4 linked regions of the Homo sapiens genome follow. The protein of the gene in region 1 interacts with the protein of each later gene in a pairwise test. Each region holds a gene or a part of one and is shown in the gene's direction. Other genes may lie near its edges. The genes, in order: SYT2, CMTM3, CCDC167 and ORMDL3.

What was found.
Region 2: the proteins of SYT2 (region 1) and CMTM3 interact in binary tests that used the Homo sapiens proteins (3 or more experiments, as listed by UniProt).
Region 3: the proteins of SYT2 (region 1) and CCDC167 interact in binary tests that used the Homo sapiens proteins (3 or more experiments, as listed by UniProt).
Region 4: the proteins of SYT2 (region 1) and ORMDL3 interact in binary tests that used the Homo sapiens proteins (3 or more experiments, as listed by UniProt).

What each region holds. Positions count from the first base shown.
Region 1 is NC_000001.11:202,595,455-202,602,484, reverse strand, and holds part of SYT2 (synaptotagmin-2), read left to right. Parts: coding exon 1-107; intron 108-427; coding exon 428-595; intron 596-2,010; coding exon 2,011-2,128; intron 2,129-3,133; coding exon 3,134-3,267; intron 3,268-5,521; coding exon 5,522-5,728; 3' UTR 5,729-7,030. UniProt on the Homo sapiens protein: Exhibits calcium-dependent phospholipid and inositol polyphosphate binding properties. May have a regulatory role in the membrane interactions during trafficking of synaptic vesicles at the active zone of the synapse.
Region 2 is NC_000016.10:66,600,299-66,607,709, forward strand, and holds the start of CMTM3 (CKLF-like MARVEL transmembrane domain-containing protein 3), read left to right. Parts: upstream 1-4,405; 5' UTR 4,406-4,507; coding exon 4,508-4,654; intron 4,655-4,710; exon of another isoform or gene 4,711-4,926; coding exon of another isoform or gene 4,927-5,022; intron 5,023-7,411.
Region 3 is NC_000006.12:37,496,881-37,504,555, reverse strand, and holds the start of CCDC167 (coiled-coil domain-containing protein 167), read left to right. Parts: upstream 1-4,662; 5' UTR 4,663-4,692; coding exon 4,693-4,734; intron 4,735-7,675.
Region 4 is NC_000017.11:39,920,538-39,924,626, reverse strand, and holds the end of ORMDL3 (ORM1-like protein 3), read left to right. Parts: intron 1-401; 5' UTR 402-423; coding exon 424-597; intron 598-1,363; coding exon 1,364-1,515; intron 1,516-1,941; coding exon 1,942-2,077; 3' UTR 2,078-3,584; downstream 3,585-4,089. UniProt on the Homo sapiens protein: Plays an essential role in the homeostatic regulation of sphingolipid de novo biosynthesis by modulating the activity of the serine palmitoyltransferase (SPT) in response to ceramide levels.

The sequences.
Region 1 (7,030 bases):
ACCCTTATGTCAAGGTCTTCCTCCTTCCTGACAAGAAGAAGAAATATGAGACCAAAGTCCATCGGAAGACACTGAACCCTGCCTTCAATGAAACCTTCACCTTCAAGGTGCTGAGGGCTGGAAGGGTGACTCCAGCTCCCTGCCTGATCCCAATTCTCTGCTGAGTTCTACAGACCTTTCCTTGGTCCTTAGCCATGGCTCAGCCTGGAACAATGGCAGCCTTGACTGCAGGGCTACCCCGGCCTCTATGGAGGATCGGGATCCCTCCCACCCCACCCTCACACTCTGCTCCCCAAAAGCCTTGGTCTTTGTCTGTCTCGGCACACTAACCTGGACCCTGTGGGCTGGAATGCAGGCCCCTGCCCATAGCACCCCTGGAGGTGCGTGAGTCGCTCTGGCCCCCTCTGATTCTGCTTGTGCCCTGCAGGTGCCATACCAGGAGCTTGGGGGCAAAACTCTGGTGATGGCCATCTATGACTTTGACCGCTTCTCCAAACATGACATCATTGGAGAGGTAAAGGTGCCTATGAACACAGTGGACCTCGGCCAGCCCATTGAGGAGTGGAGAGACCTGCAAGGCGGGGAAAAGGAGGAGGTAAGAGCAGAGATGAGGCCAGGTTGGGCAGAAAGACGAATGTACAGGTGGGCTTCCACCTCTTGGCATGATGGAAACAGGGTGGGCTTTGGAGGCAGACGACCTGTGTTAGGATCCCAGCTCCACACTGCCTGGCTGTGTGACCCTGGGCAAGTTGCTTACACTCTCTGGACTCGGGTTCCCTCCTTTAGTCTTTTTTTACAGATGAGGATTCATTACCTGCATAAAGCGCCTAGCGCAGCGACTGGTATTTGGTAGGTACTCAAATAAATAAAAACACCATTATTATTGTTACTCCTAAGCTTCTGCTATTACCTAAGGCCAGTGATTCACGCCTCTGTGCCTCAGTTCACCCACAAGAAAAGCTCATGTTTGTTCTAAAGGATACTCAGCAAAGGGACTTGTCCTCCCAGAACTGCTACAGCATCCATTCACTCACTAAATATTTGCTGAGCAATTGCTGTGTACCTAAAACTCCATTTTAGCCATTCTTCCTTCTGGGCATCAATCATTTGTCTTGGCCAGGGCCCTGCTACCTGGCACACTCTAGGCAGTGATGGAGGGCTGAGTAGAGAAGCTTAAGACATCCTTTTTTCCCTTTTGTCCCCTGTGCCTGGGAGGAAGGCCAGCACACCTGAACCAGGACCTGTGTGATGTCGTCAGTCTTGCCCTGGGTGGCTTTGACTTTGAGCAGCTTTGACTCTGCAGTGTGGTGTTGGCCTTAGGAATTAGGAGCCCTGGGTCCTCAGCCTGCCTACAGTGCTAAATTGTTGTGTGACTTTGAGCAAACCATGGCCTCTGGGAACCTCAGTTTCTCATTGGTTACAAAGAATTCTTGTCTTGTTTACATCAAAGAGTTGCAGTGATAGTAACAAAAGGGATGCAAATTGCTCCGAAAACCACAAATCATACTACAAGTGGAATGGTCCACAAGGAGAGATCTTGGTGGGTGGGACTGTTAAGGGAAAGAAGGCTTCTGAGACATTCAGTCCCCCAGGGCCCTTGGTGGTGGACACGTGGCTAACCCACCCGCTTCTCGCACACCTTCCCACCTTACCAGGGCCTGGGGTGGGAGCCCAAACATACTCCCAACCTCCCAGATCCCAGATCCACCCAGGGATCCCTCCCTCAGTCCTGCCACCGCAGCTGTCCTCTACCCCCCTCATCTGTCAGCATCCTCAGCCCACGGCTCCTGAGGTCCCAACCTGTCACTTTCAGGGACTTTGTTGCACTGCATCAGGGGGACCCAAGGTCAGATGCTGGAAGACCTTCTCGGCCATCACATATATGGGGACTGGTGATGAGGGAGGCAGGGACACATCACTGCCTTGCTAATTTTGGCAAGAAAGAGGTCAGCCATGAGAGAGGCACTAGGATGGGTGAGATGACCCAAGTCCTGCTCTTCCCCTGGACAGCCGGAGAAGCTGGGCGACATCTGCACCTCCCTGCGCTATGTGCCCACGGCCGGGAAGCTCACTGTCTGCATCCTGGAGGCTAAGAACCTCAAGAAGATGGACGTGGGCGGCCTTTCAGGTACGTGGAGAGCTTCTGGCTGCCATTGGGTGGCACCAGCGAGCCAGTCAGCACCAAGTCCCAGAGTTTGCACACTCCAGTGAAGAGGAACACTTTGCTGCCCTGGGACTGAGATGTCTCCTCGAGGAGCGGGGGAGCCTTAGCTTCCCAGGCCCTCCTTTTCTCCAAGGGCCCCTTGTCCCCATCAGAGCTGCCTTCCCAGCGCTCTCTGGCCATGCACTGTGGGCTACAGAGAAAAGGATCAGAGAAATTTCATCCCCAGATAAGTTTGTGACTTAGGATTTTACTTCTCCCAGGGAAATGAGCAGGGCTTAGCCCAAAGCATGACACCACAATCGAGACATGTTTCCAGAAGAGGCTGTAGGCTCTGCTGGCTCTGCCCTGGAAAGGGGAGGGTGAGGCAAGGGAGTGGAAGATGCTCTGAATATCACATTTACCTGGCAGTGAATGGGGCTGGCCCATGGCACAGGGCTCTAGTGGATGAAGCCTGCTGCCTCAGCTGCCTTCCCAGAGAATCAGCCCTGGGCATGGGCTCCAACCAGCGCGTTTCAGTGCCAGCCTGGCTCTGTCACTGACCCGCTGTGTGACCTCGGGCAGGTCATTTCCGTTCTTTGGCCTCAGTTTCTTGTCTGCAAGATTAGGGGGATCGGATTGGGATTATGACCCAGCAGATGTGTGTCCTGACTTCAGCACTCCCCACCCACTCCCCAGTACAGGATCACAGATGAATCCCCAGACTCTTTCTCACAAGGCCTTACTTAGACTCAGAAATGCCCTCCACCCAATGCTTCAGGAAGCCACAACCAACTGGTCACAGTTGGTCCTGGAGGTGAAGCCTTTTGCCACCTTTGAACTGGATGGCATGACTTGGGGCTTTCTGAGGGCCTGGTCTCAGCGGAGTGAAGACCCCCTCTTGACCGATGCTCTGGGCAGGCCTTGGTACATTCGGCAGGAAGGCTGGGGGCTAAGGGGAACCTCTCTGGGGTTGGGATTCTCCCTCCGCAGACCCGTACGTGAAGATCCACCTGATGCAGAATGGCAAGAGGCTCAAGAAGAAGAAGACAACCGTGAAGAAGAAGACCCTGAACCCATACTTCAACGAGTCCTTCAGCTTTGAGATCCCCTTCGAGCAGATTCAGGTGCTGGAGCCCTGGGTTCCTAGGCATGGAGCAGGGTTTGGGGAGGCAAACATGTATGGGGAGGTTGAAGAGAGGGAACTCACCTAGAGACCATGGAACAGCCTTTCTTGGTAGGGGAAGGCTCGAGGTCTAATGGTGCCTGGGTGGGGCCTCCTTCCCAAGTGCTTCAGGGATCCCCCTTTTCTGAGGAGATAAACATGAACTAATTCAAAAAATTCTGCAAATCATTCGTTTAGGACTTGAAGGACCATGGTCATGCACACAGATGTATGGGGGTATAGCAAAGGTGCCAGAGGGGTTGGGAGCTGGCTGAGAGGGTGGGAGTGGCCGCTGCCACCTCCATCCTCTCCAGCCACATCCTGTCTTGGCCATCCCTGCCCCACTTCCACTGCTCTCTAGGTCTTTCCCATCTACTCCTCTGATCTGCTTCCTCTCCTCTCTCCCTCCACCCTTCCAGCCTTCTCTATTTTTCCTTCCTTCTCACCAGCAAGTTCTGTAAATGTTGGAGATGAGGTCTGGTTTTCACCATTTCCAGGTATGAGTGGGATCTGGACGTGGTAGGACAAGAGACCCACCCACCCACCCATTTGGGCGGGAAGTCAGGCGCAGCTGGGGGCTTGCAGAGTGGTCGGTTATCATGGAGTCTTGGTCTCTCCTTCTTTGTAGTGAGCTGATCCCACCCCCTCTCCTCCCCGCAGGAGGGCTGGGGGCAAGGGTACAAGAGAATCTTCAGAGTTGGTTCTGTCATCTATGGAGATGTGTATGATGTTATTGATGGAATACTTCAAGGGAACACTGGGCAGCTCAGTGATAATGTTAATCCAAGAGAAGTCCTCATTACAGAGAATTTTAGATCTAGAGCATCCTGACCCAGGCATCTCAAATTCAACATGCCTAAAACCAATGTAATGTTCTTCTTCCTACCTCTTCCCAGCCAAGCCTGTTTCATCTGAATTCTGTTTTCAATGAATGACCCCACAGTCCATCATTTACCCAGTGGCCCAAGTCAGAAACCTGGGCGTCACCTTAGACTGACTATTTCCTTTTTCCTTTCTCATTTATCCAACATACTTTACTGAGCATTTCCTAAGTGGTAGGCTAGGGGATGAGGAAATAAGTGTGTAATCCACACACTCCTTGCTCTCAAGGACCTCACAGTGGGAGGGCACCAGTAAACAGTCTAGTAAAGCACAGTGAGACGACAGCTTCAATGTCCATGAAGCGGAGGACTGTAGTGAGGCTTCCCAGAGAGAGCTTGGTCCTGAAGGACAAATCTGAGTTGGCTGGAGTCACAGGGGAAAAAGGCATCGAGCATTCAGCAAATCCAGCTGATCATCAAGTCCTCTTGATTCTCTTCCTAAATACCTCTCCAACCTGGTTTTGACTTCCCATCCCCACTGTCCCTGCCTTGGTACAGGTATTCGGGATCCATCCTCCCAGACCCTCCAGCATCCTCCAATGGGTCTCTTCCCTGCCATTAGGCCCACTCCTCCTCCAGTAAATCTTCCAACTCAATGCCAGGGCTCTCTCTCTCAAATGTCCACGACACTCCTTTTCTTAAAGTCGTCAGGAGTCCCCTACTGCTTGCCTGAAAGACAAAATGCAGACTCCTTGGCTGACCCCAACCTACTCTACCAGCCTCATTTCCTGCCTCACTGCTTCTCACCCTATACCTCAATGACTGAACATCTAATGTTTCTCAGATGCCAAATGCACTCTCAGGTCTCTATGCCTCTACCCAAGCAAATCTGTTTTCCTGGAATCCTCTTCCTTCTTTTCTCCTCCTAGAGAAATTCTCAGACTTCATGTCCCAGTCACCTCTTCTGTGAAGCCTTTTCTGATTGGCCCCAGGACTGTCACCTCCTCTAAGTTTCCACAGTACCTTGTGCCCATCTCTCTAGCATAACCTTTATCAATTCATGTTGTAAGTTTTCAGTTACATGTCTGCTGATCTCATTGAGGAAGTGAAATTCATCTTTTCACTTTTCCTTCCCTCTTCTCCCCCTCCAAGTGCTTAACAGGGTCTAGAGCACAGTACATCCTCAATAAATGCCCAGTGGTAGAAACAAAGGCTGCCAAAGGCGTGGCCTCTGCCTCCATGTCAATTCAGTCTTCACTGGAGCAGAGATGAAACCAAGGAGCCCCAGGAGGCCTTACCTTCCCAATCATTGGGAGTAGAGGTTGATGGAGGATAAATTTGGTCATGGGATCCCACGTCTCTGTCTGCCAACTCCCTCCCTCGTTTTCCTTGCAGAAAGTCCAGGTAGTGGTCACCGTGCTGGACTATGACAAGCTGGGCAAGAACGAAGCCATAGGCAAGATCTTCGTGGGCAGCAATGCCACGGGCACAGAGCTGCGGCACTGGTCCGACATGCTGGCCAACCCCCGGAGGCCCATCGCCCAGTGGCACTCGCTCAAGCCTGAGGAGGAGGTGGATGCACTCCTGGGCAAGAACAAGTAGACAGCAGCGGCTGGGACCCCACACCTTTCACGGACACTGACAAGATCCAGAGCTATCAATACCTCAGTTATGCAACCTTAGAGGTTTTCTTTTTTCTTTCATTTGTTGGGTGGTTGTGTCCTTGTTTTTCCTTGTTTTTCTCTTTTTAAAGACCAACTTCCCTTTGATGGCTGTGTGAGGAGAGTCCCCTAAGAGGTGAAAGAGAAGCCTGGCTCTGTTCACGGTCCCAGGAGCTGTCCTTGCTGCATGCCCTGTCACAGTTCCCTCGACTCTTTCAAAGCTTCACATCTGCCTCACCCCAAGCGAGGCTCTCTACTGGCACAAACTTGCAGCAGTTCCTGTTTTTTGAGCCTTCTGGACCAACAAAATGGCAGCACATCCTGCTTCCTGACAGGGAAGGCATCACAGTGGCCAATGATCGTGTGTGTGTGTGTGTGTGTGTGTGTGTATGTGTGTGTGTGTGTGTGTGTGTGTGTGTGTGTGTGTGTCTTTGAGCATTTCTCTTCATTCCTGGAATGTGTGTGTGTGTGTGTCTCTTTGAGCATCTCTCTTCATTCCTGGAATGAGCCATGGACAGTAAAGTTGTGTGGGAAAAGAAGGCTCTTTGGGGACCCTGACATGAAGAAGTCCACTAAGTGGGAGATCTTCTCTCATCTATGGCAAAGTCTCAGGATCCTGTTCAGATATCGGGGCTTTCATACTCCTGTTGGTGGCTATTTGGGAGGCAGCAAGATGTGAAGACTGGATGTGTTCAGAACTAGGACCAAACGATGCCATCAAATACTTCCTCCTGCCAGTCATGGTTTCCCCAGAAGTGTAGTTCCTGGGACATTCATGGATATGAGCTATTCACTAGTTGGGTCAGACTAACAGGGACTCTCAGTCCCAAAATCTCACTCTTATTGACAATAAATATCAAACTATGAAGAAACAGAAGTCCCATTACCAGAAAGACCAAAATTAAACTCCTGGATCTTCACCCCATCCAGTGGGAAACACAGATGCTTTCTCCCTTTCCAGAATATAAGCAGCCAAGTTCATTTGCATTTATTCCCCATTGTGCTTTTGCTTCTGTTTCTCTTTTAAGTGGAGCAACACTGTCTGAAGACACGTTATCTGTGCAGAGCCAGAGAACTTTAAAAGGAAAGTTTAAATGTTCTTAGTTCTCCTGAGGTCCAGGTAAGAAGGGGGTGGTAAGAAGAGGATGGGGGACAGATGGCTGAGATCCCTTGGGAGGAGATATAGGGGAGCACTGGAATTCCCCCGACTCCCACTCCTTGCTCCCTTGGCCCTCTGCCCTCC
Region 2 (7,411 bases), on another chromosome or scaffold:
ACACCCGGCTAATTTTTTGTGTTTTTAGTAGAGACAGGGTTTCACCATGTTGGCCAGGCTGGTCTCCAACTCCTGACCTCAGGTGATTAGCCCACCTCAGCCTCCCAAAGTGCTGGGATTACAGGCATGAGCCACTGCGCCCAGCCCAGGGCCACGTTTTTAATAACACCAATGGGAACCAGATTTCTCTCTGTTAGAACCCTCACCTGGCCTCCTCCTAGGGAATTGTCCGTAAAATCCAAACTCCAGGTTCTGGTCCTCCCAGTCTAGCCCTGCCCCTTTTCTGACCAGCTCCCCCCATCTTCCCCCACCCTTCCCCCCAAACACCTTGGCTCAGTCCTTTCTTTGACACTCCCTTCCTGGCTGTCCTCCCAACCAGCCAGACATCTGTTATCTATTACCAGGAACACCTTATTCAGGATTCTCTGGATATGTTTAGTGTTTATTCCACCACCATCACCAGCAGCAGCAGAAAAAGCTGGGGCCTTGCTGTACCCTAGGCACTGCTGTTGGATGAATAAATGAATGTCAAGAAAGGCTTCTCTGAGGAAGCAATACTGCACTATAGTCACTGAAGAATAAGGAGGAGTTAATTAGAGAAGAAGGTGGAGAAGCATTCTGGGTAGAGGGGTCAGCATGGACAATGGCTCTGTGGCAGGAGGGACCATAGTTTGTTCCAGGAACTGTAAGAGGTCCATGGGAGAGGCAGGGGAGGGAAGCACAGCAAAGAGTTATATTTTCCTTCTATACTAAGACCCTGTGCAGGTTGGGAAGCTCCCATGGTTTGTGTGTGTGTGTGTGTGTGTGTCTGTGTGTGTGTGTGTGTGTGTGTGTGTTTATCTTTGTGGGGAGGAGATGGAAGTGTTACAGGATCTTTGGGGTGTTAATTTTCTGGTTGGAAACCTCTGTGGCCAGTGGCACCTTTGCCAGAGTTCTTGTCTTGCATCCAGGAAGAATGAGGTACACAGACAAGTGGAGGGAGAACAAGTCAACAAGGAGGTTTACTGAGTGTTAGAAAGCTCAGAGGAGACTGACAGTGGGTAGCTCTTCTCTGTAGGGAGGTCATCCCGTTGAGTGTTCAGCTCTCAGCAGAGAGGAGGCCCTGGAGAGTGTGGCTCCTCTCTGTACCTGGTCCTCCCAACCTCTGCTCAGCTCTGGCTGAGACTGGGGCTTTTATGGGCCTCAGAGTGGAGGAAGTGTGAGCCCAGTTGATCTATGGGCAGCCATGGGTGGGTCAGAAAAGGAGGTACAAGTTCCCACTCTGGTCGGTCGGACTGGCAGCCTGGCCCCCAGCCTTCAGGCCCTCCCTGGCCCAAAGGTGGGGCCTCAATGGGACTTGCCCCCTTCCACCCAGGAATCTGTCCGCCTCCTGCTGCCATTCATGAAGCCCAGGCTTGCCCCAACTTTGCTCCCAGATCAGAGCACGTGTCCACAGCAGGAAGAAGCCAGGCAGCAGGAGAAGGCACTTCCGAGCCTGGGAGGGCAGGTGGGGGCCTTCCTGGGCCCCTAAGAGTACAGGGATGCCTGAGCCTGCAGCTGTGGTTTGGGCAGCTGTAGCTGTGGGAAAGGGGGTCCCAGGGCTCCTGTCTGCCCCATGGAGGAGGCCCCATTCTGCAGCTGCAGTTTGGGTAGCTGCAGCTGCACCTGGGAGAGCAGGACTCCTGCCTGCTCCATGGAGTGTGCAGCCCAGGCCATGCCTCCCTGCTGCAGCTGGGTGATGATAGCAGCAGGTTGTCTGGAGCCACGGCTGCCATCAAAAGTGATCAATGACTGGTGATTGTCATGAGTGGTACAAGGTCAAGAGATAATCAGGTCTGGCCAGGTGCGGTGGCTCACGCCTGTAATCCCAAACCTTTGGGAGGCCGAGGCGGGAAGATTGTTGGAGGCCAGGAGTTCAAGACCAGCCTGGCCAACATGGCAAAACCCTGTCTCTACTAAAAATACAAAAATTAGCTGGGTGTGGTGGCACAGGCCTGTAATCCCAGCTACTTGGGAGACTGAGGCATGAGAATCCCTTGAATCTGGGAGGTGGAGGTTGCAGTGAGCCAAGATCATGCCACTGCACTCCAGCCTGGGTGACAGAGCAAGCCTCTGTCTCAAGAAAGAAAAAAGAGATAACTAGGTCCACACGTGTTTGTGTCTTTCCACAGTGTCAGATTTTTATTCACCCTATACCCAAGGGTAAAAAAAAACAAAAGCCACAAGCTATCCCAAGGAGCCAATTTGCTTCTTCTTCTTCTTCTTCTTTTTTCTTTCATACAGAGTCTCACTCTGCCGCCCAGGCTGGAGTGCAGCTGGAGTGCAGTGGTGCGATCTCAGCTCACTGCAACCTCTGCCTTCTGGGTTCAAGTGATTCTCATGCCTCACCCTCCCAAGTAGCTGGGGTTACAGGCCTGTGCCACCACGCCCAGCTAATTTTTGTATTTTTAGTGGAGATGGGTTTTCGCCATGTTGGCCAAGCTGGTCTCGAACTCCTGACCTCAGGTGATCTGCCTGCCTCAGCCTCCCAAAATGCTGGAATTATAGGCATGGGCCACTGCACCCAGACCCAAGGAGCCAATTTTCCTTAGTACTTCCCGTTCACTCAGTAGTGAGCACATGGGCTCAAGCCACTCCACAAGTCAGTCAATATTGCAAACCATATATAATAGTATACTTAATCCACATGTAAATGTTATAAACATTCCACAACAAACAAAGTAGCATTTAACATCAAGAGAAAAAGAGATAGGAGAAAGGGTTAAGGAACCAGTTCCAGGGTAAGGAAGAAGACAAAAGGAATCCTGGTCTGGGCTTGAGGGTCTTGCAGAGTCTTTGAGGGGCAGAGCCTTGGGAGGCAGATGCAGAGTTCTTATGAACGGCAGTGGGATGGTTGTCAGTTAAGGCTGCTGGGCTGCTGTTTTGTAGTCACAGAGTGCTCTGGTGAGAAATGGTAGAGGAACAGTGTGCTTCTTTGTGTCCTTATGTGGTTGGACGCAGTCTTTATTTATTTTTTTTTTTATTTTTTGAGACAGAGTCTTGCTCTGTCGCCCAGGCTGGGGTGCAGTGGTGTGATTTTGGCTCACTGCAACCTATGCCTCCCGGGTTCAAGCGATTCTTGTGCCTCAGCCTCCTGAGTAGCTGAGATTATAGGCACGGTGCCACCACGCCCAGCTAATTTTTGTATTTTTAGTAGACACGGGGTTTCACTATATTGGCCAGGCTGGTCTCGAACTCCTGACCTCGTGATCCACCCACCTCAGCCTCCCAACGTGCTGGGATTACAGGCATGAGCCACAGCGCCTGACCTTCTATTTTTTATTAAACAAAACATCTTGCCCTTGTTGGCAAAGCACCCTATGAAATATAAAATGAAGTCTTTTTCTAAGATGGAGTTAGTTATGTCAAGGGTGCGCAGTACTGTGCCATAAGCTCTCCCCCGGCTGCCCAGAGAGAAAACCTAAGGGCCTCTTAAAGACACCATCACAGCAGTTCAGCGGGGAGCAGGCAGGAATGGTTTCGGATCTAGTGGTGGTGAGAAGTAGACAGAGATCAGAGAAAGTTATAGGAGGTGAAAGTGGGAGGACCTTGGTTACAGACTGCCGGTGAAGAGGGACAAGGACAACCCGCAGGTCTCCGCTAGTCAGGTGGAAGGAAAGGAGGGGGCAGTGCCCTTCGCAGAGGCACAGGAAGCTGGGTCTTGATCACGCTGAACTCCAGACGCTCTCTAGATGTGCACGCATGTGCGTGTGGAGTGTGTGTGTGTGTGTGTGTGAGAGAGAGAGATGTGTTGGGGTGGGGGGACTGCAGGTCAGGAAGTCCTGCAGATGTGCGTGCCTGTGTGTGTTTGCGCGCGCGCGCGCGTGTGTGTGTGTCTGTGTGTGTGCCTGGAGCTGCGCTTGCAGGTCTGAGAGTCCTCTGAGAATGGGTTGGGGGAGGCGGGTGCAGGACCGAGGCCTGGAACAGCCAACAAAGAGGCCCTGGAGGAGGGTGGGGCTGGCCGGGGACAGGAGGGGTGGCCAAGAAAGTCGCAAGAAAACTCCGGCCCCCAAGAAAAAGAGAGGGCATGGGTTGCGGAGCCGACATCACGGCCGGGGTCTTTGCTGTTTAGACGCCTGGGTTCCCGGATCCCAGACACGCGCACGGGCAGGAAGTTAGACCGGAGACAGCGAGTATAGACAGCCCTTCTGGATAGGGGCAGACGGGTGGGAGCTCCGAAGGGGTGCCGGGGCGGTGATCGGGAGGTCTCCAGCGGCCCGAACCAGGGTGAAGAAGAAGGTGGAGTCTGCGGAGGCCCCAGGCCGGGGAGGGGGCGGGTCGGGCCCAGCATCCCCCGCAGCCGGGGTCCGAGGGGGAGGGGCGGGCTGGAGGAGCGGGTGGGGGCGGGGCGGGGCGTGGCGGCGGGGGATGCGCCCCTGCGCGAGCCAGTGTCGCCTGCCCTCCTTCCGCACAGCCCGGGTTTCCGCTTCCCTCCGGGCGCGAGAAGAGGGGAGCCAGGCCGAGCCCCGGCCCTACCGCCGCCGCCGCCATGTGGCCCCCAGACCCCGACCCCGACCCGGACCCCGAGCCTGCCGGCGGCTCCCGTCCCGGCCCCGCGGTCCCCGGGCTCCGCGCCCTGCTGCCGGCGCGGGCTTTCCTCTGCTCTCTCAAAGGCCGCCTCCTGCTGGCCGAGTCGGTGAGTGCGGCGGGACCCTCGGCCGCCCCGCTAGGACTGCGCGGCTCCTTTCGGAGGAGGACGTCGGGGCGCGGGTGGGGTCCGGGGGCGGCCGCCGTGCTCCGATACCCCCTCTCCGCGCCGCCTCGGCCGACTTCTCTCGGGCGCCTGGCGAAGTTGGGTCGAGGTCCCCAAACTTTGGACGGCGGGGCGGGGCCCGAGCCCAGGCCATCCGCGGCGCTGTCCCCGCGAGTCCAGAGCTGGGGGCCGTGGGAAGTGGGTGGGGCCCGGGGATGTGGGTCCTGCTGTGTGAGCCAGGCGCCCCCGCCCTCTCTGGGCCCCGGGGACTCGGGCAACTCGGACCTCCGGGACTCCCGGGCCGCAGCGGGGTCCGCTTTCCTGCGAGCGGGTAGTGCGGGCCGGGGCCTCGACCTGCGGGGCCGAGCCGGCGGGGGGCCGTGCGGAGCGGGAGGGATCCCCCACCCCCGGGACTGGGTGAGGCGGCCCCGCGGTGACTTCATCGCCCTCCTCCCCTCCGCGGCCGGGCTCCTTCCTACTCCGCCCTCGCCCCCACCCCGGCCGGTGGGGCTTCTTTGTCCTCTGGACACCGGAGGCGCCCGCACTGTCCGCTGTGGGGTAGGGGTGGCGCTGGGCCGTTGGGGATGGGGAGGGAGAGGCCGGGCCGGAGACCGGGGGAGGCGGGAGGAGAGAGCGGCGCACGGCGGCGGCCACTTGTTGCTTAGATCCCAGGAACTTGGCGCTTCCTGCCCTTGTCCCCACTTTACAGATGAGAGCGCTCAGGCGCCTGATTTGACAGGTGGCTCAACTGAGGGGCCCAGTGAGAGCGGCCAGGAGGGTGGGGGCAGGAGGAAGGGGGATTCTGCTCCGGGACCTCTCCCTGGTCACTCAGGGCAGAGGGCAGAAGGTGGTCCTGCAGCCTCTCCCACGGTCAGCCCAGAGGCCACCTGCCCAACGCCCAAGTGAGACACCAATGCCACACTCCGAGCCCACACTCCCAGCCCCACCCTGGAGACCACTGGGAGCCACTTGAGGGGAGAAGCCTCGAATCCACCGTCCCCAGAGTGGCTTGAACCCCCCCATCCCCACCCAAGACCACCTCATAAGAGGGAGGCATATGTCCAGCAGGAGCATAGAGGCCACCCTGGGCCCAGCAGATGTCAGGAATCCAGGTCAGGGAGGATAAGGAAGGGTGAACGGTCAGCACTCAGGGTTCACAGGAGCCGCTGAGGGCACTCCTGCCTCCCTAGTCCCCTCACTCCCACCCCCAGGCCAAGCAAGTGCAGAGGCTGAGATGGACAGAAACAGAGAGAGGAAGTGGCCCCAGAAATCGCGGGATGAAAAAACAGGAATTGAGAGGGGAATCCCCAGAATTAGGCTTTGGGGTGCAGGCATAGGAGACAGGAAGGGGAGGGCCAGAGCTGGGTCAGTCCCATGGAAGGCCTTCCTGGGAGGCCCCAGCAGCCTCCCAGCCCGTCTCTATGCCTTAGTCTATCTTTCCAAAGGGGGCTCAGCTGCACCCAAGGCCATGTGCAGAGCAAATGGGGGTGCTCTGGGGACCCCCTGGGATCCCTGCAGTTCATTTGTCTGAAGCAGCCACAGTGCTTCCTGTGGGGCATCTGGGTGTCCCCATGGGGACTCCTGCACCCACTAGAAACTACTCAGCCATAGACATGTTCAAACGCAGCCACAGTGACAGAAACCAGGGACAGATGGCCTCCCCAACACCCACAGGGCCAAGTTGCTTAAGAACTCTACCTGGGCCGGGCGTGGTGGCTCATGCCTGTAATCCCAACACTTTAGGAGGCCGAGGTGGGTGGATCACCTGAGGTCAGGAATTCGAGACCAGCCTGGCCAGCATGGTGAAACCCTGTCTCTACTAAAAATAAAAAAATTAGCTGGGTTTGGTGGCGGGCGCCTGTAATCCCAGCTACTCGGGAAGGCTGAGGCAGGAGAATCACTTGAACCCCGGAGGTGGAGGTTGCAGTGAACTGAGATCGTGCCACTGCACTCCAGCCTGGGAGACGGAGCAAGACTCCATCTCTGGGGCGGAGGTAAGATAACTCTATCTGGGGGGTCAGCCAGCCCTGGGTTCAAATTCTAGTAGCCTCTGATTAGCCATGTGACAGAGTCTTCTCATCTGTCAAGTGGGGCTGTGCTCATGGGTGGATGTGAGGGTCAGAGGAGATGCCCGTGAGCCTCAGGGTACCAGGCACTGTGGAGCCCCAGGCTGGCCAACAGGTCACCTTGGCCTGCTCTGCAGCGTACCTGGGCTGCAGGACTGCCCAGGGCTCAACATCCTCCTGCATCAGCTCTTCCCACCTACAGAGTTGTGGGCAAGACCACAGTGAACATTTTGATTCTTGTAGTTCAAGTACAGCTGGCCCCACCTTTCACAGCTGGCCCTGTATGAATAAGGCAGCAGGGCCTGAGGTGTCAGTGCCAACGCACCCTCTGTTAGATGTTCCTTTCTTATCATTATGAAAATTTGCAAATACATTAAAACTCCAAAAGATTTTTTTGCTTTATCTATCTGTCCATCAAGGCATTTTATCTTTTAACACAAAATAAATTGCAGACATCAGGACATTTCAACTCTGAACACTTCAGGACGCATATCATTAAGGTTCAAGGTTTTTTCTTTTCAAGGTGAAATCTACATTCAGTGACGAGCACACGTCTTTGGTGTTGGGTGTTACTTTTTGGAAACTGGTTCCTGCCTCGCTTTGATTTCCCTCCGCAGGGCACTGAGTGGAGTGC
Region 3 (7,675 bases), on another chromosome or scaffold:
TGGTTTTCATGTCACTGGCTGTCTAATTCAGTTTCATGTGGATTCACTGTCTACAATTTGATTTACGTTAACTAAAAACTGGATACCAACTAAATAGCAAGCACATTCTTTTCCCCTTCCTTCCTTCCTTTTCTTTCTTTTTGCATGGTAACATGAGGTTGGGTGCAAGGAGTGGTATGTGAGTTTTCCCCAGTGAAATATATGGACAAAAAAGTTCTAGCATCTTGGCTTAGCTGAAATGTATAAAACTCACTAAGACATAAAACTGTTCCAAGCAGGCCATAAAGGCGCTGCTGCCTTTGCCTCAGAACTTGGGCTATAATCTGCTGTCCTGGAACAAAATGCAAACATAAATCAGCTTTCACAGTATTTTTAGCCACCTAAAAAATTCTTCATTTCCTGCCTGAAATGCTTCTGACAGTGAGCAATGCCACTCTCCCTCATTCTTGCTCTGAAAAGCTTCCCTTTGGGCAGCGATGGGGACCCAACACTGGGCCCCACAGCTGAGGCAAACCCAGAAGGAGGCATGGGATAGAGGAAATGGTCTCCCAGGGTCTCTAGGACAAATAAGTCAGGGATGTGGCTAGCGTATAAATTGCTTTCATGCAAAGTTGGAAAGGGCGCCCCTCCTTGGCACAGGAAGCCCTGTGGGTTCCCACTTGGGATGCCCTCTCCTGCATCTTTGCCTGACGCAATCTCATCTGTCCTCCTGGACCCAGAGCCTCCACAAAGCCATCCCCAAATACCCACCCCATTCTCTTGTTTCTGCACTCCTAATGCATCAACAGTGAGTACCAGACAGCTGGCATTTAATTATATGATGTCTGGCATGCACTATTTCATGTTGTCAGTCTGTCTCTCTAACTAGATTAAAGAGATCTTGAGGTAATCGTTAGTTCTTACTTTATATGTCTCCCTTACAGCTAACAAGGAAGCTTTATGTCTTCCTCGTTATGTCTTACAAATAACAAGGTCATGAAAAACAGGAACCTAGGGTGACTGTCTCGTTCTCCCCACTGTACCCATTGAGCAGACAAAATTAAGAGCCAAAGAGGAGGCTTGACCTGCCCAAGGTCATGCAGTGAGAACTTGGGCTAGCCAGGAACGACTCCAGTTCTCCTGTCTGTCAATGCAGCATTCGACTTTCCTGAAACACTTAGTTCTAAAACCCCCAATAGGAGGTTCAGAACCACAGCTCCCTGGGGTAATAAAGACAGACAGACAGACAGCTGGCCCACAGTAATCCATCTGCTCATGGGCAGAATTTCCAACATGGAGGCAAGTCAAGCTGCTCTAAGGCTCAGCAAACAGCCTCCATGGGAATCCAGGCTGGGTCTCTGTATGTGCCAGGGGGATGAAAGGACCTCAGTGGGGTACCTGGGGTGCTTGCATCCTCCCTGACACCACGCAGGTCACTATTGTCTGCGATGTCTGGGGCAAAGGAAACCCGTAATTGATGGTCTCAGCAGGAAGGACACATAGACAGGTGGAGAGGGCATCTCCTGTTTACAGAGAAACGCTTGTGTTTGCAAGGGGCTGCCTTTTTGCAGTGAACTATGCACCCATGATAGCAGGAAACCACCCAAGTATTTGCCCCAAATTTATAACAACAGATACAATAGTGTCAAAGCTGATAGAAACTGAAAACAAAATAATAACAAAAAATACCCATGGCAACAATTGCTAAACAAAACCCTATAACGACAAGCTGGCAGCAGCCTCATCAGTCCTGCTGAGCCTCTCCTAGGCACTCACAAGCCACAGCACCCGCCACTTAGTACTTCTCACAAATGCCCTATGAGTTTGGTATGATGTGCTTGTTTTATAGATGTGGAAGCTGAAGCTTACGGGGCTGAAGTATCTTGCCTCACATCACAGGCTGCTAAGAAGCAGAGCTGGGATTGGCATCCAGGTTGATCTCCCTCTAAAAGCCTCCCCTTTCACTACAACCCACATAGACTCTCATTCCAACCCCACTTCAAGCATTTCTTCCCATTATCAGACCTGTGGGACAAGGTTTGGTTGGGAAAACACGAGGCTCTTCAGGAAGACAGACAACAGATTGCCCATCATTTCATGGACAAGGGACCGACATGAGGCGCACCCAGATCTCTGTGGCTTTTTCTTGGTGCCAAACAAATGCAGAAGGAGTCACTTCTCAAAGAACACAGTGTTTTTCTTCCTCTTCTCACCTCTCCTGGGCCGGTGCCTGTGATAATTGGGAAGCACAGAGTCTGGTTTTTCCGGGATTGGAACCAATGCTGTGAAGAGTGTTCTGACAATAAATGTTGATTGACAGTTGATGGACAATGTTCTTGAATCAGTTTTTCCTGTGCTGGGTGTTAAGCTGAGAACTGCACTAAACAACTGCTCAACAACCTGCTTCCTGTTCAGATAGAATTTACTACACTCTCTCTCTGTGGGCCTCAGTCAGGCAGCCAGGCGAGATGGTATCTCAGACGCCTTCCAGCTCCATCACTCAATGTCTCTATCAAGAAGAGAACACAGATCTGAAAACATTTTTCCCCCTAACACTGAGTTGGGGTTATTATTCACATACAAAAACACAGGCACCAACAGAGATAACTGGTCAGGAAATAAGGAGCTTTGATTCTGGTCTCATACTCTTTGACCTAGTAATTCTACTTCTGTGAATTTATCTTAAAGAAAGAATCCAGAGGACAGAGCTGTGTGCACGAAAAGGTTTGCTTTCGCAATATTTGGAGTTACTGTCAATAAAATGATGTCCAATGCAAGAATGCGAGAGACTCCCTTGGTGGCACATGAGGCCACCGCAAGTGATAATTTCAAAGACACAGAAAAACATACTTGGCAGTGTTTTTCAAATTGCAGTTCAACCTCCATTAAGGGGTCATGAAATAAACCTAAGAGGTGTCCTGCCACCAACTTGTTTTTGTTTATTTTTTTGAGATGGAGTTTCGCTCTTTCACCCATGCTGGAGTGCAGTGGCACGATCTCGGCTCACTGCAACCTCCGCCTTCCAGTTTCAAGTGTTTCTCCTGCTTCAGCCTCCCGAGTAGTTGGGTTTACAGGCGCCCACCACCACGCCCAGCTAATTTTTGTATTTTTAGTAGAGACGGGCTTTCACCACGTTGGCCAGGCTGGTCTCAAATTACTGACCTCGTGATCTGCCCAGCCTCCCAAAGTGCTGGGATTGAGAGGTAAAGCCAGCTGGACTTCCTGGGTTGAGTGGGGACTTGGAGAACTTTTCTGTCTAGCTAGACAATTGTAAACGCACCAATCAGCGTTCTGTGTCTAGCTAAAGGATTGTAAATGCGCCAATCAGCACTCTGTAAAAACCCACCAATCAGCGCTCTGTGTCTAGCTAAAGGATTATAATGCACCAATAAGCACTCTGTGTCTACCTAGGGATTGTAAATGCACCAGTCAGTGCTCTGTAAAAACGCACCAATCAGCGCTCTGTGTCTAGCTAAAGGATTGTAAATGCACCAATCTGCACTCTGTAAAAATGCACCAATCAGCACTCTGTGTCTAGCTAAAGGACTGTAAATGCACCAATCAGCACTCTGTAAAATGGACCAGTCAGTGCTCTGTAACAGGGGACAAATAAGGGAATAAAAGCTGGCCATCCCCCAGTCAACAGTGGCAACCCACTCAGGTCCCCTTCCATGATGTGGGAGCTTTGTTCTTTTGCTCTTCACAATAAATCCTGCTGCTGCTCACTCTCTGGGTCCGTGCTACCTTTAAGAGCTGTAACACTCACCGTGAAGTCAGTGAGACCAAGAACCCACCTGAAGGAACCAACTCCAGACACAGGATTACAGGCCTGAGCCACCGTGCCCGACTTTGTTTTTTTTTAATTAAATAGGCAAGAATACAAAATAACAGAGTGCATTACAGGAGGTAAAGGTACTTACTGTGAAACTTTGGTTTTGGTTTCATGGGTAACTGGGCCATGGTATAAAATACATTTTTTTATCGTAGGGTCACAGTCAAAACATTTCAAAGGCCGTGGGTCTATGGTGTACAGTATAGTACGATTACAACAATGTAAAATACTGTGTGTGAGGCCAAGCCTGGGAGGAATAAACAGAAGCAAAGAGGAACTGATAAAGTTGGTAGAATAAAGGATGCTGCTTCTCAGTTATATGTTTTCTGTGATGTTTGTAGGTTGTTCTTACAATAAAACAAACCAAAAAAAAAAAAAAAAAGAAGTCAAGACACAAAGGAGAAATAACAATAGAGGGCCATTATCAGATTCCATTGGCCGAGAAGCTCAAGGCTCCAGCACCGGCCTTGAAGGATGGACAGACTTTGAATGGGGGGCGTGGCCTAAACAGGGACGGGGTTGTTGCTGAAACACAAAACACACTGAAAGAGAACATGGGGTTAAAAAAGGCTCTCAGTGATGCAAAGCGGCTTAAAACTGGGGAAGAAAGGGGCAGGTCTACTCCCGGGCTGTACATTCTGCCTCCCTGTACCGACTTTTCCACCCTCCACCCATCTAGGCTGAGGTCTCAAGCTAGAGGTTGCCCCTCATAAACATGTCCGCACCAAGCCGGCCGCGCCCCTCAACAAGATGGCGACGGCAGCAGCCCCACCTCCCGCTGACTCGGTGGCCAATGAGGGAGAAGCACGAAGACTTGAGCATGCGCACATAGCGACTTGGTGGGCGCGTCCAGTGATGACTGGGGGATCCCGGCAAGTAACATGACTAAAAAGAAGCGGGAGAATCTGGGCGTCGCTCTAGAGGTGAGGGGAAAAGTGGGGGTTGGGCCACCTCGTTAGTTGCCTTCTCCTGGCCGCGGGATAAGGGATAGGCTGGGCTATAGATAGGAGGAGGAGCCAAGCGTAGGATGAGAGGGCGACGCGGTTTGGGGAGAGGGACGGGAGGGGTGAGAAGGCCCACGGGGTTCCCGGAGGACAGGGAGCCCGAGGAGGTGCCGGATGGGCGAACCAGACTCTCTGGAGAGGGCATCTCCAGAGAGGAAGAGACATGGAAGTGAAGGGGAGCCCCAAAGACGGCCTGGCATAGAAGTGAGGGAACTCAAAGCGGGGGACACAGAACAAAAGGGATGGGTACAGAGGTGAGGGAGACCCCAGAGAAATAGGGACCTGTAGAATCTAAGGAGAACTCCCAAAGGGCTAGGACTCAAAGATGAGGGAGCCCATTCTGGTGTATATTATTAATGGTTTAAATATCCTCTAAAAGGGGAAATTTTTCCTCCGGAGTATGGAAGCTTGTACCTTCAAAATTACTTTGGGAATATGTAAAGAGAATTCTGGAATTGGTGATGTCACTGAATGGCTTAAAAATAATTTGCTGCATATAGAAGGGAAAGAAAACATACATACTGAGCAACCGCTATGTGCTACTTTCATTGCATTGTTAATCCTCACTGCAAGCCTGTGAGGTTTGTACAGATGAGGAAATTGAGGTTCCAGGTGGAACCCAGGCTGAGATGGTGGAAGTGGTGGAGCCTGGGAATCAAGCACAGGTGGTCTTCCTGGAAATTCATCTTGCTTCCCCTGTTTTCCTTCCCTTAGGGCATCCTCCCGGAGGTTGCAGGAGAGGTACAGGGTCATAGTCTTCTTCAGGCTTACTAGTGAGTTCAGTGATTCTCAAACTTTAGCATGCATAGAGTCACAGGGCTTGTTAAAAATGGAGAGTTGAACTCTTCCCACACCCCGAGTAATTCAGTAGGACTTTGATGTGCATTCTTAACAAGGAATCTGCTTTTTTTTTTTTAAGACAGAGTCTCGCTCTGTTGTCCAGGCTGAAGTGCAGTGGCGTGATCTCGGCTCACTGTAAACTCTGCCTTCTGGGTTCAAGCGATTCTCGTGCCTCAGCCTCCCGAGTAGCTGGGATTACAGGCACGTGCCACCATGCCTGGCTAATTTTTGTATTTTTGTAGAGACGGGGTTTCACCGTGTTGGCCAGGCTGGTCTTGAACTCTTGACCTCAAGTGATCTGCCCGCCCGCCTTAGCCTCCCAAAGTGCTGGGATTACAGGCATGAGCCACCACAGCCGGCCAGAATCTGCATTTTTTTTTTTTTTACAAGCCACACACACCCCATGGTGATGTGGGTAGTTTTAGTGGCATCCCTTGAGAAATATTGGCCCACTTGGTAGGAAAAAGGTTGATGGAAATGTGAAGAGGATGGTTTATGAGTGGTGACTGAGATGGTACTTTGTGGCGGGAAGAACATAGACTTTGTAACCTGCATTAGGGTACAATAAGCTGCAGTAACAGAGAAACTCCAAAACTCAGTGGCTTCAAGAACAAGAAAGTGAGTTTTTTTCTAACAGGCTAGAGCAAGGGGCAGGAGATGTCTGCAAATGGTCAGATAGTAACTATTTTAGAAGAGACATGGTCTCTTCTAGAGAGCCAAATGGTCTGGGTTGCAACTACAGTTGATCCTCATTATTCACAGATTCCACATTTGCGAATTTCCCTAATGGCTAAAATGTATTTGTAACCCCAAAATCAGTACTCACAGTGCTTTTGTGGCAAATGCAAAGCAGTGGGAAAAAAATTGAGTCGCTCGCAGTCCATGTTCTCAGCTAAAGTTGAACAGGTGATGATGCCCTGCCTTGTTTCAGCTGTCCTACTGTAAACAAGGGTCCTTATTGTGTTCTATTTAGTGCCCTGTTTTTGTTTTGTTTTGTTTTTTTCATTCTCATGTTTTTTATTGGTATTTCGCTGTGTTTTGCTTTTGAGACAGAATCTCACTCTCGCCCAGGCTGGAGTGTAGTGGTGCACTCTTGGCTCTGCAACCTCCACCTCCCATTCAAGTGTTCACCCCCACCTTCCCCCGACACAGCCTCTCTAGTAGCCAGGATTAGACCACCACCACATCCGGCTAATTTTTGTATTTTTGGTAAAGACGGGGGTCTTGCCATGTCGGCCAGGCTGGTCTCGAACTCCTGACCTTAGGTGATCTGCCCACCTCGGCCTCCCAAAGTGCTGGGATTAGAGGTGTGAGCCACTGCCTGATTTTGCTGTTTAAAGTGCCCCCGATCCCCGACCCCCGACCCCAAGCATAGGGCTGAAGTGCTGTCTGGCATTCCTAAATCCAAGAAGGCTGTGATGTGTTGTAGAAGAAAACAGGTTTTTTAGATAAACTGTTCAGGCATGATATAACTCATGATGTAACAGCACGTATAGTGCTGTTGGTTGTGAGTCCAGTGTTAATGAATCAACAATATATATTGAATAAGGTCACTTTAAACAGAATCACACATGAAACAAGGTTGCAAAAATGTTGTGTCCATAGGCTTGCAGGAACCTCACCTGGTTTGGTATTTGCTAATTCAATATTAGAGGCAACTTTATAGGACATAGCTACCAGGAACAACAAGAACCAACTGTATTCAGGCTAAGGTAGGAGTATGTAAATGAAGGAATATGTAAATAAGTGGGTGTGTCAGTGTTCCACTAAAGCTTTATCTGCAAGAACAGTCCTTAGACCATTTGGCCACAGGGCTTAGTTGCCAACTCCTGGTCTAGAGTACCAGGTCTATGGTGGTTCTGCCAGATTCCCTTCCTCTGTGGCTTCACCATCTCTTGAGATCTTGTCACCTTATCAGTGGAACCGGGGCATACCCCACTGATGTGTCCACCGGCAGAGAAAGAGGAGAATGGAGGAAGCACACCCACTGTCCTGGGCCCAAACTGTCCACTTTCCATTG
Region 4 (4,089 bases), on another chromosome or scaffold:
AGTCCAGCAGGGGTTGTGCTGAGTGAGAATTCTCTCCCTGGGGCTTTGTCGGCAGAGGGTCCTCATGGGAGTGCCATAGGGGGTGAGGCTGGGGGATGGGCCTTGACTTCTCTGCCCTGGGGCTGCGTGCCTCTTGATGACCTGTCCTCCGATGCCCTGCCAGGGCCCTGTCCCAATGGGATGATGCATGGGGCAGCCTGTTGTTTATCCCAGCCCAGCAGCAGGAAATGAGTAGAGCTAAGTCCACATGGACTTTCTCCACTTTCCATGCTTCAGAATCAAAAGAGTGGAACTGCCTGGAGTTCTCAGGGAAACAAGGGCCTGCCTCCCAGCGGGATCCGAGGGTGAGAGGGGGCAGGGAAAGCAGTGTGACCTGTCTGACCTGTGCTGCTTGTTTGCAGAACAGCAGAGAGGGGCAGCAGGATGAATGTGGGCACAGCGCACAGCGAGGTGAACCCCAACACGCGGGTGATGAACAGCCGTGGCATCTGGCTCTCCTACGTGCTGGCCATCGGTCTCCTCCACATCGTGCTGCTGAGCATCCCGTTTGTGAGTGTCCCTGTCGTCTGGACCCTCACCAACCTCATTCACAACATGGTGAGAGCCTGTCTGCTGCCTGCCCCTGCCCCTGCCCCTGCCCTGTGGGCTGCCCTTTGGCAGGGCTGAGGGATAGGAGGAGCCTGTCGGGCCTGGCCCAGGTGTCAGGGTGATGTACTGACGACATCTGCCTCCAGAGCCCAGGCCTAGCCCTTACCTCTCTGCCTTGCTCCCCCTTCTGGGTTCCTGCCCTGTGTACCATGACAGGAATCAAATCTGCAGATTTTTCCACATCTCTAGGGTGGGGTGGCTGTTGGCCTGGAAGATGTGCTCCTGAGAGCTGAACAAAGGGCTCCAGAGAGTTCCCAGGACCCGAGAGTCCTGGTGCCTAGGCTGATACAGAAATGCCCCTTTCTCAAGTTAGCTTCTCGAACCGTCTTCCACTTTTGCCCTTCTCTGCTCCCTCACCACTTGCTACCTTGCACTCTTTGTCGGGTAAGCAGGGCTTAGTCCCATCGCTTGCCTCCTCCCAACAGGCACAGGGGGCTATGAGTGGCCTGGAGGGGGGCAGCATCTCGGTGCCTATCTTGTGGCCAACTTCCACCGTGCATTCTCATGCCAGGCCTAGCCCGTCCCCCAGGGAGTCCCCTTGTTCTTCTCCTGCCATACTCCCAGCTGCTCCATCCTGACCTCCAGCCCATATCCCCCTGCCCAGCAGAGGGAGGCTCCAGATCACTGGGAGTTACTTGTGTCTGTGACTGGGTGGAGGAGCTGGGCAGGGGGGCCTTTCCCTTTTGTATCCTCTAACAAAGACTTCTTCCTCCAGGGCATGTATATCTTCCTGCACACGGTGAAGGGGACACCCTTTGAGACCCCGGACCAGGGCAAGGCGAGGCTGCTAACCCACTGGGAGCAGATGGATTATGGGGTCCAGTTCACGGCCTCTCGGAAGTTCTTGACCATCACACCCATCGTGCTGTGAGTGCCTGGGCTACAGGAAGACACCAGCAGGCAGGGCAAGGCCTGGAGGACCCCAGGGCCCAGCCATGCTTATTAACCCTGCCGTGGCTCCTGGTGTAGGGATGAACAGAGGAAGTTGGAATATTCCTGGGTCTTACACTGGACTCAGGCTTTGGGCCTCCCTGGCCCCATCTTTCCTCCATTGGAGCTTCCTTCCTGCTAGTGAGATAGGCCTACAGGCTTGGGGTGAAGCTGGGAGGTGGGGGCGGTACTGGGCCAGGAGGGGCCCCTTTAGCCTGAGAGCTCTTGCTTCTTACGCTGGTCTGGGAACCTCTTCTGTAACTCCTTAGCTGTTGGGATTCTGCCTTTCCCCTCCCAGGAAGTGAGGGAGGAAGGGGTCCTCCCAACAGTCTTTTATATCTCTCCCCACCCTTCCCCTCCCAGGTACTTCCTCACCAGCTTCTACACTAAGTACGACCAGATCCATTTTGTGCTCAACACCGTGTCCCTGATGAGCGTGCTTATCCCCAAGCTGCCCCAGCTCCACGGAGTCCGGATTTTTGGAATCAATAAGTACTGAGAGTGCAGCCCCTTCCCCTGCCCAGGGTGGCAGGGGAGGGGTAGGGTAAAAGGCATGTGCTGCAACACTGAAGACAGAAAGAAGAAGCCTCTGGACACTGCCAGAGATGGGGGTTGAGCCTCTGGCCTAATTTCCCCCCTCGCTTCCCCCAGTAGCCAACTTGGAGTAGCTTGTAGTGGGGTTGGGGTAGGCCCCCTGGGCTCTGACCTTTTCTGAATTTTTTGATCTTTTCCTTTTGCTTTTTGAATAGAGACTCCATGGAGTTGGTCATGGAATGGGCTGGGCTCCTGGGCTGAACATGGACCACGCAGTTGCGACAGGAGGCCAGGGGAAAAACCCCTGCTCACTTGTTTGCCCTCAGGCAGCCAAAGCACTTTAACCCCTGCATAGGGAGCAGAGGGCGGTACGGCTTCTGGATTGTTTCACTGTGATTCCTAGGTTTTTTCGATGCCACGCAGTGTGTGCTTTTGTGTATGGAAGCAAGTGTGGGATGGGTCTTTGCCTTTCTGGGTAGGGAGCTGTCTAATCCAAGTCCCAGGCTTTTGGCAGCTTCTCTGCAACCCACCGTGGGTCCTGGTTGGGAGTGGGGAGGGTCAGGTTGGGGAAAGATGGGGTAGAGTGTAGATGGCTTGGTTCCAGAGGTGAGGGGGCCAGGGCTGCTGCCATCCTGGCCTGGTGGAGGTTGGGGAGCTGTAGGAGAGCTAGTGAGTCGAGACTTAGAAGAATGGGGCCACATAGCAGCAGAGGACTGGTGTAAGGGAGGGAGGGGTAGGGACAGAAGCTAGACCCAATCTCCTTTGGGATGTGGGCAGGGAGGGAAGCAGGCTTGGAGGGTTAATTTACCCACAGAATGTGATAGTAATAGGGGAGGGAGGCTGCTGTGGGTTTAACTCCTGGGTTGGCTGTTGGGTAGACAGGTGGGGAAAAGGCCCGTGAGTCATTGTAAGCACAGGTCCAACTTGGCCCTGACTCCTGCGGGGGTATGGGGAAGCTGTGACAGAAACGATGGGTGCTGTGGTCCTCTGCAGGCCCTCACCCCTTAACTTCCTCATACAGACTGGCACTGGGCAGGGCCTCTCATGTGGCAGCCACATGTGGCGTTGTGAGGCCACCCCATGTGGGGTCTGTGGTGAGAGTCCTGTAGGATCCCTGCTCAAGCAGCACAGAGGAAGGGGCAAGACGTGGCCTGTAGGCACTGTCTCAGCCTGCAGAGAAGAAAGTGAGGCCGGGAGCCTGAGCCTGGGCTGGAGCCTTCTCCCCTCCCCAGTTGGACTAGGGGCAGTGTTAATTTTGAAAAGGTGTGGGTCCCTGTGTCCTCTTCCAGGGGTCCAAGGGAACGGGAGAGGTCACTGGGCCTGTTTTCTCCCTCCTGACCCTGCATCTCCCACCCCGTGTATCATAGGGAACTTTCACCTTAAAATCTTTCTAAGCAAAGTGTGAATAGGATTTTTACTCCCTTTGTACAGTATTCTGAGAAACGCAAATAAAAGGGCAACATGTTTCTGTTTCCCTGTGTCTGGCCTTCGCTTCCTGGAAGGCTGAGGGGAGGGGGCAGGGGTGTGGGCAGCGGCTCCCGCTGAGGTGCTGGTGGGGCATCAGTGCAGCTCTGACGGTGGCAGGAGGGGCGCTGGGACTGCTGGGCTTTCTGCTGGCTTCAGCAGGGAAATCCCCCAAGGGGGCTGTGAGGGAACTGGCGGCGGCAGCGGTAGTCAGAGAGCAAAATTCTCTGTGCTTTTGCCTGGCTGTTCTCCGACAGGTCTTGCGCCTTGGCCCCAGAGGCTGGGGTGACCTGTGCCATGGCCAAGGAGGGGGACACTCCAGCAATGGTTTACACGTGGAGCCAGGGTCCCAAGTGGTGCTCAGTCCTTCCCAGTGAATCCCCAGCCCTTCTCCAGTTTCTCACTTCTCTCCCCAAGGCCTTTCCCCAGTCACCTCTCCCTTGGGAGCGCTGCGTTTCCTTCTGGCCTTTCAGTGGAGGGGACTTTTCATACTTCCTCCTCCCACCATAAGCC